3 linked regions of the Homo sapiens genome follow. The protein of the gene in region 2 purifies or fractionates together with the protein of the main gene of each other region. This does not show direct contact. Each region holds a gene or a part of one and is shown on either strand. Other genes may lie near its edges. The genes, in order: THUMPD3, CTNND2 and NUDT12.

Region 1 (3,662 bases), on a different chromosome or scaffold from region 2:
ATGCTGCACTGAGCATTTCCTTTCAGCATTGTGTTGGGGCTCAAAAAGTTTCAGATTTTTAGATGTGGGCTGCTCAACCTGTAGTAGGATTGCTACATTTTTAGAGGTGATCTAGTATTTCTTGAGGATTGAATTCACCAGAAAGAATACTGTTCAACTTAAGAAATTCTCTAAGTATCTCAGTATTTATTTACTTCAGCATATAGCAGATGTTTAACCTTTGGTGATGAAACATAAAAGAGATTTTCCTTTTAATTTGCATCAAAAATTCTTGCTCAGAAGTAATTAGGACTCACTCAAGGTAAAAAGTGAAGGTCAGAAAACTGCAATCTCACTATCATAAAGCTGATATATCTCATTACCACATAAGCAGTGAGAGGGCAAGGATTGTTGTCTATTTTTTTTTCCACCAATATATCCCACGCTCTTAGTGTCTGGCATATAGTAGGTACCCAGAAAATATCTGTGGGATGAATTGGTAAGCAAATGTTTTCCATCCAATATTTTAGCCAATACCCTCAGCAGCTTTGTGAAGATAGGCACTATTATTATCCTCATTAATCATTAGGCTTAGGACACATAAATAATTTCCCCAGGGCCACTCAGCTAGTAATCACAGAACTGGAGCTCAAATCCCCTGCTTTTAACCATTGCAGCATACAGTGTACCCTAGAAAGTCATCGAGGAAATATGATACAGCCCACCTGAGTGGCTTCACCTTTCTCTTCTCCCACAAAAGACGTGTTGCCCACAAAACACTTCATGCTTCTCTCTTTCCATCTGCCCTTTTTCCCTTTCTCTAGGGGAAAGCTGATTAGTAACCAAAGAGATGAGAAACTAGGGAGATGGGACATTTTAAAAATACAAAATATAGTTAGTAGCTGCTTTAAAACTATCATTCCTAATTTTTTAAATACTTAATTGTTGATAGCTTGTGCTGTTCAAAAGCTTTCTCAGAAATGTGTTTCTTTTTTTTTCACCCAGGTTCATTGTCTGAGATCAGTTGATAACTTATTTGTGGTGGTTCAGGAGTTTCAAGATTACCAGTTCAAACAAACAAAGGTGAGCTATCCTAAACATGGTGGCTGATTTTTGGCTGTCTTCCACAAAGAGATTATTTCCATTTTTCATAGTCTGTGAAAGTTTAGCATTACTGTAGTCTTTGTAATAGAGAATACTGGGAGGCTTTTACAGTAAAATCTAGAGTTTTGCTGACAGTCTATCCCAAAAGATGTTTTTTGAAAATTAGTATTGAAAACCATTAAAGTTTATAAGAAAGAAGAAAACACCTTGTTTTACTTGTAAGAGATATAAACCTTAGATTTGCTTTGCTTTTACATATATTTAGTTCCAAAAGAGAATTGCTTCCAGAACATGAACCAAAGAACAAGTGACAGTTTGTGTCTTCTACAAATAACACTTCCTCACCATCCTGCTTTTGCTCTGCTTTCTTCTCTTTCTTCATTTTTTGAAATAAAGCCAAAATAACATCTAAATACTCCTTCAGTTGTTAGGACAACAGCTTTGTCTCCAATATGTATTTAGCATCTGAATCCTAAATATTCAGCTGCTGCCTAAGCTGAAGGTTGAAAATAGATTGCAGCAAGGCTTTAGGTTTTTTCCACACTGCTTTTTGGTTAGGTTTCTAGAGTTAACCGCTTAAAAACATTTTTCTATCAGTTTTACGTATCTTAGAAATAATCTTTTTAAAAACAACTGTGATACGCTACCTAATTGTCTAACTTTTATTTATTGGCAAGCATGTTGATTTCCAAAACGTTATTCAAAAACGAGTCAAAGTTGTATGAACCCTCAGCCTAGAAAACAATAAGACCAGACCTAAAAGAAGTCAGACTTAAGGGCCTGGCGTGGTGGCTCACACCTGTAATCCCAGCACTTTGGGAGGCCGAGGCGGGTGGATCATGAGGTCAGGAGATCGAGACCATCCTGGCTAACACGGTGAAACCCCGTCTCTACTAAAAATATAAAAAATTAGCCGGGCGTAGTGGTGGGCGCCTGTAGTCCCAGCTACTCAGGAGGCTGAGGCAGGAGAATGGCGTGAACCCGGGAGGCGGAGCTGGCAGTGAGCAGAGATCACACCACTGCACTCCAGCCTGGGCGACAGAGCGAGACTCCATCTCAAAAAAAAAAGTCAGACTGAAAATAGATAAAAATTGTATTAAGTAAAAATCTAACTTTTAGAAAAGCTTAAAGCAATTCTAATGAGTTCTCTTAAGTATTCAGATGATAATCATGAATTTATTAGTCCCCACCCCCCTCTTTTAAAAAATATTGAGATGGGGTCTCACTATGTTGCCCAGGCTGGTCTCAAACTTCTGGGCTCAAGTGATCCTCCCACTTAAGCCTCCCAAAGTGCTGGGATTACAGGTGTAAGCCATTGCACCTGGCCCCCATTCCCCACCTCCACCCGCGCATATTTTTTTTTTTTTTTTTTTTGAGACAGAGTCTTGCTCTGTTGCCTAGGCTGGAGTGCAGTGGCACAATCTCAGCCTACTGCAACCTCTGCCACCTGGGTTCAAGCGATTCTCCTGCCTCAGCCTCCCGAGTAGCTGGGACTATAGGCATATGCCACCATGCCCGGCTAATTTTTGTATTTTTAGTAGAGACGGGGTTTCAGCATCTTGGCCAGGCTGGTCTTGAACTCCTGACCTCGTGATCCACCTGTCTTGGCCTCTCAAAGTGCTGGGGTTACAGGCGTAAGCCACCGCGCCTGGCCTCCATCTGCCTTTTTAAAAGTATGAACAAATCTGTGATTTATATGGGTTTTTAAAGACTAGTTAATACATGTATTTGGAGCAAACTTGTAAAGACTGAATGGATATAGAGTGAAAAGTAAGTCTTTGTTCCTATATCCTCATGCTATGCAGCTCCCTCCCTGGAGGCAACAACTGTTAGCAATTTCTTGGGTATTATTCTGGAGATATTTTACGAATAAATGTATTTTATTTACACAAATGAAAGCATAGCATACATACTTTTCTGCGCTATGCTTTTTTTTCATATACAAGTTGAGTATCCCTTATCTGAAATACTCGGGACCAGAAATGTTTTGGATTTTTGTTTGTTTGTTTTTTGAAATATTCTGGGTTGGGCATGGTGGCTCACACCTGTAATCCCAGCACTTTGGGAAGCCAAAGCAGGTGAATCATGAGGTCAGGAGTTTGAGAGCAGCATGGCCAAGGTGGTGAAACACCATCTCTACTAAAAATACAAAAATTAGCCGGGTGCGGTGGCGGGCTTCTGTAATTCCAGCTACTCGGGAGGCTGAGGCAGGAGAATCACTTGAACCCGGGAGGCAGAAGTTGCAGTGAGCCGAGATCACGCCACTGCACTCTAGTCTGGGCAACAGAGCAAGACTCCGTCTCAAAAAAAAAAAAAAAAAAAAAAAAGAAAGAAATACTCTGAGGGTGGAACCTATGTATAAATAAATCCAAGATTCATTTGTTTCATATATACGTTATACGTATAGCTTGACGGTAATTTTATATGATTTTTAAAATAATTTATACATGAAACAAAGTTTGTGTACACTGAACCATCAGAAAGCAAAGGTGTCACTATCTCAGCTACCTGTGTGGCATCATGTTGGCACTTCAAAAAAATTTTAGGTTTTGGATTTTGGACTTTGAGATTAGGAATGT
Region 2 (3,662 bases):
CAGAGGCAGAGAAAGTGAAAAGCTGGAGAGAGGCCAGCAGTGTTACATTAATTAAGTTCCCTTTGCCTGAAAGGAAATATCAGAATAGAGAAGAAGTGTTCCCCATTGGCATGGTTTATGAAGAATTCTAGTTGATAGAATTCTGGATATAGTAGCTTTCACAGTACTTTGCTTGGTAGTTGAGCTCTTTAAATATTTCATGGTATTTTGACACTACATCAAGAGTTATCAAGGTAGCGTCTAATGCCCTGGTTGATTTGTAGCAACTATGGTCCATGAAATTCAGCAGATTTATGTATAGCCAACTTTAAAATAACTTACCCTTGGCGTTCTTCCCCTATTTTTCATGTTATTCTTTAACTGCCAATAATTGGATCGCTTTGTAAGTGGTGAGAATTAGACATAAAAAAGATGATGTTAAAATCTGACTTCCCAAACCATATATAAGTGATCTAGGCTAGCTATTTTCCACAGCTTTTTCTGCCTCAGTATAAATAATTAGATTTTGGTGGCTGTTTGATGTTTTGCAATTAATAGGAGAAATCATGGACACAGTAAAGAAAGAAGATAAACATTGCTTTTCTAAATAGATACGATGTTGTATTTAAGTCTAAGCATGACTACTCAATCTAAAAATGCTCACTTTTTAAAACAAATTTTATCCTCTGTCACATATTTTATTTGGACTTTCAAATATTAGACTAATATAGCAGTCATTACCTTCAACAGTATACAATAATGTAATTTCCAGAAAGAGCAACCTCTTTGGTAGCTCCAAATGTAAAAGAGCCACAGTTCAATCTCTCATCTCTAACACAGTCTTCACTGGTGTGGAGCATTGTTCTTGGGGTCATGGGGAAACCAAATAAGGAAGAAGAATCCTCCAGAAAGACAGACAGGTGTTATATAAAAAGTCTCAGAGATAGTACAAATTGTCTCATTAACCCAGGACATGGAAGGTTGATGCAGGAAGGCTGGGGCTTGTAGCATCTGGATCAGATTATTTGTGTTGCTTAACTCAGGTTGAAAAAGAGTAATGTTAAATTCATAGCAGGTGCATAGATATATTATGGCACCTCTAGCCAAAGAAATATGCAATTATGAATTATAGTTTCAGAGTAGCTAATTATATGAGAACTATTCATAATACTAAAGCTAAGAAGATAATCAAGGCAAATAACTATATTGAATGTGATACCCAGCACACATACCCACTCCCAAATGTGAGAACACTGAGAACACAGTGTTTATGTCAGGGTTTCAAGAGTTTTGTTCTTTATATATTACTTTTCCACTAAATATATCATAGTTTAATATATATATTACATTATGCAGAAGAAAAGCATGCCTTTCCATTCTTGAAAAGAATAGTATATATTTATTTTGGGGTGAAGTTCATTAATTAGCTGAATGCATGACTTAAAGTTAACAAAGGTCATTCATCATGGAATGTAGATTACACAGATTTTGATCAGCCATACTTACATTTTCTCGCCTTTAAATTTGAGATTTGTTTGTTTTCAAAAGTAGTGCATGCTCATTGAAAATTCAAAAATACAGAAATGATTAAAAGAAGTTAAAATTCATGCATGGTTGCAAGCCCCAGAAATGACCATATTTTTAGCAGAGATATCAAGCGATACACATTTTTAAATTTAGAAAACATTGCTCATATTCTGTTTAGTTACCTATTAACATCTCATGTAATTAGTATTTATTTTTAGTGTCTGTTTTCCATACCTTTATATAACATTATTTACTTACATCACTCTGTTATTGGAGATTGATGACATTTTCATTTTTGGTAGTTATATTTAATGCTGTAATTAAGATCCTAATAACTAAATAGTTGTCATCAGGTTATTTACTCTAGATTACTTCCTAGAACTGGATGTTTTCAAGGTTGTTGATATATGTTGTTCATTTGTCTTCCAGGAAGATTATATAATTTATATTTCTCTCAGCAAGGCAGGAGTGTACAAATTTTCCCATGATTTCAACAACACTGGGTGTTGTAATGAGAAAAATAAAACTTCTAATTACATAGGAGAAATATTGTGTTTTTCTCTAATTCATTTGCTTCTCTATTAATATTCCTGAGGTTAAATATTTTCTAATTTGTTGGTGTCTACGTCTAATTTTTTTGTGAATTATCTTTTTATATCTTATACACATTTCTCAATTTATCTATTTTCCTTTTTTAAAATTGATTTATATTGTTTGTCTATAGTAATTATGTCACTCTGTCATGTCTTAACAGTTTATATATCATTTTATTGGTTCCTATTTTGGGAGCATAATTCTAAAGCTTGAAGTTAAACTTACTCACTTGTCCTACAGGAGTTCTTCTTTAAGGAAACATTTTACTGCTTGCTGATTTCGTGTGTCCCAGTAGTAAATACAGCAGTGGAGCAAATGGTTGAGAAAATAGCTTCAAAGTTGTACCCCAACTGACTGAGTTCATATCCCAACTTCATCATTTTCTAAGTGAACGGTTATTTTACTACTAAGTGTCATAACACAGGGGAAACAATAATTCCTGTGTCTTCAGGTTGTTGCGACGGTGAATTAAGAGACCATGGACTTAAAATACATAGCAGAGTATGTGGTATATTCACTATTACAACACACATTAGCTGTTTCTACTGCGAAATAATACAGATGCCAGATGCTTTTCTGTAATTCTGGCGTTTGCTTTTCCCACATGAAGCATAAACGCACCTGCACAGACTCCAGGATCACTGTGTGAAAAGGCAAGGTGTTTGTGGCAGTCCGGGGCTCACAGGTGCAGTGCTTTGTGTGTGGTTCTGGCACTTGACTGTGTGTTCTTCAGGGATGTCTCATTTCTCAAGTTCAAGTTCGTTGGGAAGAGCCAGGACACTGTTTTTAGGCAAACACATGATTTTCTACCTTCTCCCCCTGCTCTCAGGCACACACTCCTTCTCTCTGGTCACATAGGACCATGCTTCTCCCCAGCCCCACCCCATACTGGTAATCTATCTTTTAAAATAATTGATCCACAAATCATAGGATAGTAGTAGGCATGTAACAAACACTTAGTTCATCATTTGGGGCAAAAATGGTTTCTGAACCAAGGTTTCTTTGCTTGCTTTGGGTTGGTTTTGGGTACAGACACTGCAGCACCCTGGAGGGACCACTGCCTTAGGATGCCAAGTTCTGGGATCTAAATCGTGCTTGGCACTTGCCTTCTCTTGTGACTTTGCATCTTTGCCTATTTTGTCATTTGTTCCTTGGGATAAAAACTCACAGGGCTTTGTTGAATGTGCTGTGATAATTTAGGTGAAAATGCTTTGGGAAGCTTAATCATAATAAACATTTAAGTATAAAATATATTCTCTGGAACTTTTGATGCACTTCAAAAATACAGTAATGGTGGGGGGTAAGAGTTAGAGTCAAAAGATTTTCTTGCCTATAAAACTAAATCTCTGAATTTTGTTACTAATGTGTTTATAAAATGCCCACTTCCATAGTGGTTGTAAAGATATTGCTACATTTCATGCTATTGGCTATTGCCTAAAGGAAGAATTCTCCTTTATCCATCCGTAGAAGTAATTCTTGTTGTTTCTTCATACCACTTCAAATATTGTAAGTTATACAAAATTGGCCCAAAAAGTTTCTTGTATTTTTTCCTTGTGGTGCAG
Region 3 (2,379 bases), about 92 Mb from region 2:
CCAACATGATGTCTCTTATTAGAAAAATGGTTTTGTGAGATAAAACTGTGAAGGAAGAAAAGAAACCAAGAGAGAAAAAGTTCAGAGAAGACTGACCCAAATTTAACATAATCTGAGGCAATATTGTAAAAATGTGTAAAAATATGAATTTGTGATTAAGACAGAACACTTTGAAAATATTTCGAAAACCCAACATCGTATTTTGTGTTGTGACACTCTCAAGAGTACTGAATAATCTCTAATATCACTTGAGGAATGAGTGTTATTAGAAATTATTAAATAATACTCAAAGCTTAGTTCTTAGATTTAGAGATTAGGATTTATTCTAATCCAGTGTTTGATTAATTGATGTGCAATAGCTCGGCTTGGTGGCACAAAGAATGCCTGCTGCTTCCCTTTGGTCAGAACATCCAGGACCTAAAACACACCATAATAGAATGCATTAGGATTTCAAAGCTGTCATATTTAAATACTATTCCCATGTTTACATAATTCAATTAAAATGTGATGAGTTTTACAGTGAATAACAACAGTAGAAAGTGACAACATCCATATTTACATGCAAAGTTTTTTTTTTTTTGGAAACAAGGTCTTGCACTCTGCCACCCAGACTGGAGTTGCAGTGGTGGGATCATGGCTCATTGCAGCTTTGACTTCCTGGGCTCAGGCGATCCTCCTGCCACAGCCTCCCAAGTAGCTGGTACCATAGGTGCACCTGGCTAACTTTTTAAAAATTATCTGTAGAGACAGGGTCTCCCTATGTTGCCCAGGCTAGTCTCAAACTCCTGGGCTCAATCAAGCTTCCTGCCTTGGCCTTCCAAAGTTCTGGGATTACAGGTATAAGCCACCACGCCCCGCCTCAACATGCAAAATTTAGGACAGCATTTTTAATTGCTTCACTGAGTAAGTGATTCAGTTTCTAAAATGTTCCAGAAAGACACATTCCCTTATGAAAATGACATCACGAAAAAGCAAAATGTACGCTCCACACTTAATTTCTAAGCAAAGCCAACTTTTGAAACAGATTCTTTTTTATAAAATTCATAAGCAATAATCTAATTTCCATCTTTTAGGATTAAGCATAGAATAAAATTAATTTTATGCAGGCAAAGTCAGAAAGAATTTCAGGTCAGATGAGTAATTTATCTTTTAATATATTATTTAGGAATGACATTTTAGAAAGTTATTTTAAGTGTATGTTTATTATACAGTTATGTCATTCTTGTCCTTAAGTACATTTTAAAATGAATAAAAACTTTCTGAAAATTTTAAGCACTTACTGATGTTTTTTGAGAGCTACTTGTTTTAATGTTATAAACTAAAATATAAAATGTATAAGAATATTCCTGTTTCTCATCTATGAATTAATGTTTTTCTAAACCCACTGATAGGTATTATTATTTATGTGAAGGAATGGAATCTGAAACTCGAAATGGTACAGAATCATCTCTACTAGAAAAATCTCATAGAATAAGTTAATATAGATCACATTAGTGAAACATACTCCTCCTGTATGGAATTACTAATTACCATGTAATCCATGCATAATGAGAGGGCCAAAGGCATCATTCAACTTGCTGAAAATATGCATCCTTGCTCTGTGACCAAACCAATACAGTCAGGGAACAATCAATAGAAGAAGGAAATTAAATTGAACTTTACCTGTTCTCTAGTGAACCAGCGGGCATCCTCTATTTCATTCTTGTCAACTTTAATTTCTGTAGACACTGCTAGAGCTAAGCAACCAATCATTAAGGAGGAAGGCATTGGCCATGGTTGACAAGCAACATACTGAACATGGCCAACTTTGACTCCACTTTCCTCTTCTACTTCTCTCCTAACAGCATCTTCTATTGTCTCTCCTAATGAAATGGAGCAAAAGAACAAGTTGCTGATGAACATGCCCGGGACACTTTGTGTCCTGAATGGTTCAAACATCTGGAAATCACTTTGGACAGAAACCCAATGCAAATAATCAGAAAGCAGAAGCCTAAAACTAGACTGTAATTGAAGAAAACAATTTTTTTAAAGTACATGACCACATATAGAATATCAAAATGCCAACAATAAACTTTTCGTTTTTTTAAGGTACAAATTTGTCAGTTACATTTTAAAAATAATGATACCATCTAAAAATATCCAATACCTAATACTGGTTAAACACTATGCAAACACTTTATATCTTATCTCATGTATATATTGTCCACGAAATAGTTATAAATTACATGATTTTTACAAATAGCTCTTTCACACTAAAATTCTGAAACTTTTTTTTATTATGTTGTCAAACAATTATTGCAGGTAACTCTTTTCAGGTCATTACAAGATTACAAACTACATAAGATGAAATTTAATACTTTTTCTAAGCAATTATTTTCC

The links.
Region 1: the proteins of CTNND2 (region 2) and THUMPD3 purify together in Homo sapiens (affinity purification with mass spectrometry; one large-scale study listed by BioGRID and IntAct). This does not show direct contact.
Region 3: the proteins of CTNND2 (region 2) and NUDT12 purify together in Homo sapiens (affinity purification with mass spectrometry; one large-scale study listed by BioGRID and IntAct). This does not show direct contact.

Annotation. Positions count from the first base shown.
Region 1 is NC_000003.12:9,365,924-9,369,585, forward strand, and holds part of THUMPD3 (tRNA (guanine(6)-N(2))-methyltransferase THUMP3), read left to right. Parts: intron 1-984; coding exon 985-1,062; intron 1,063-3,662. UniProt on the Homo sapiens protein: Catalytic subunit of the THUMPD3-TRM112 methyltransferase complex, that specifically mediates the S-adenosyl-L-methionine-dependent N(2)-methylation of guanosine nucleotide at position 6 (m2G6) in tRNAs.
Region 2 is NC_000005.10:11,894,297-11,897,958, reverse strand, and holds part of CTNND2 (catenin delta-2), read left to right. Parts: intron 1-3,662. UniProt on the Homo sapiens protein: Has a critical role in neuronal development, particularly in the formation and/or maintenance of dendritic spines and synapses. Involved in the regulation of Wnt signaling.
Region 3 is NC_000005.10:103,550,555-103,552,933, forward strand, and holds part of NUDT12 (NAD-capped RNA hydrolase NUDT12), read right to left. Parts: intron 1,863-2,379; coding exon 1,663-1,862; intron 418-1,662; coding exon 307-417; 3' UTR 1-306. UniProt on the Homo sapiens protein: mRNA decapping enzyme that specifically removes the nicotinamide adenine dinucleotide (NAD) cap from a subset of mRNAs by hydrolyzing the diphosphate linkage to produce nicotinamide mononucleotide (NMN) and 5' monophosphate mRNA.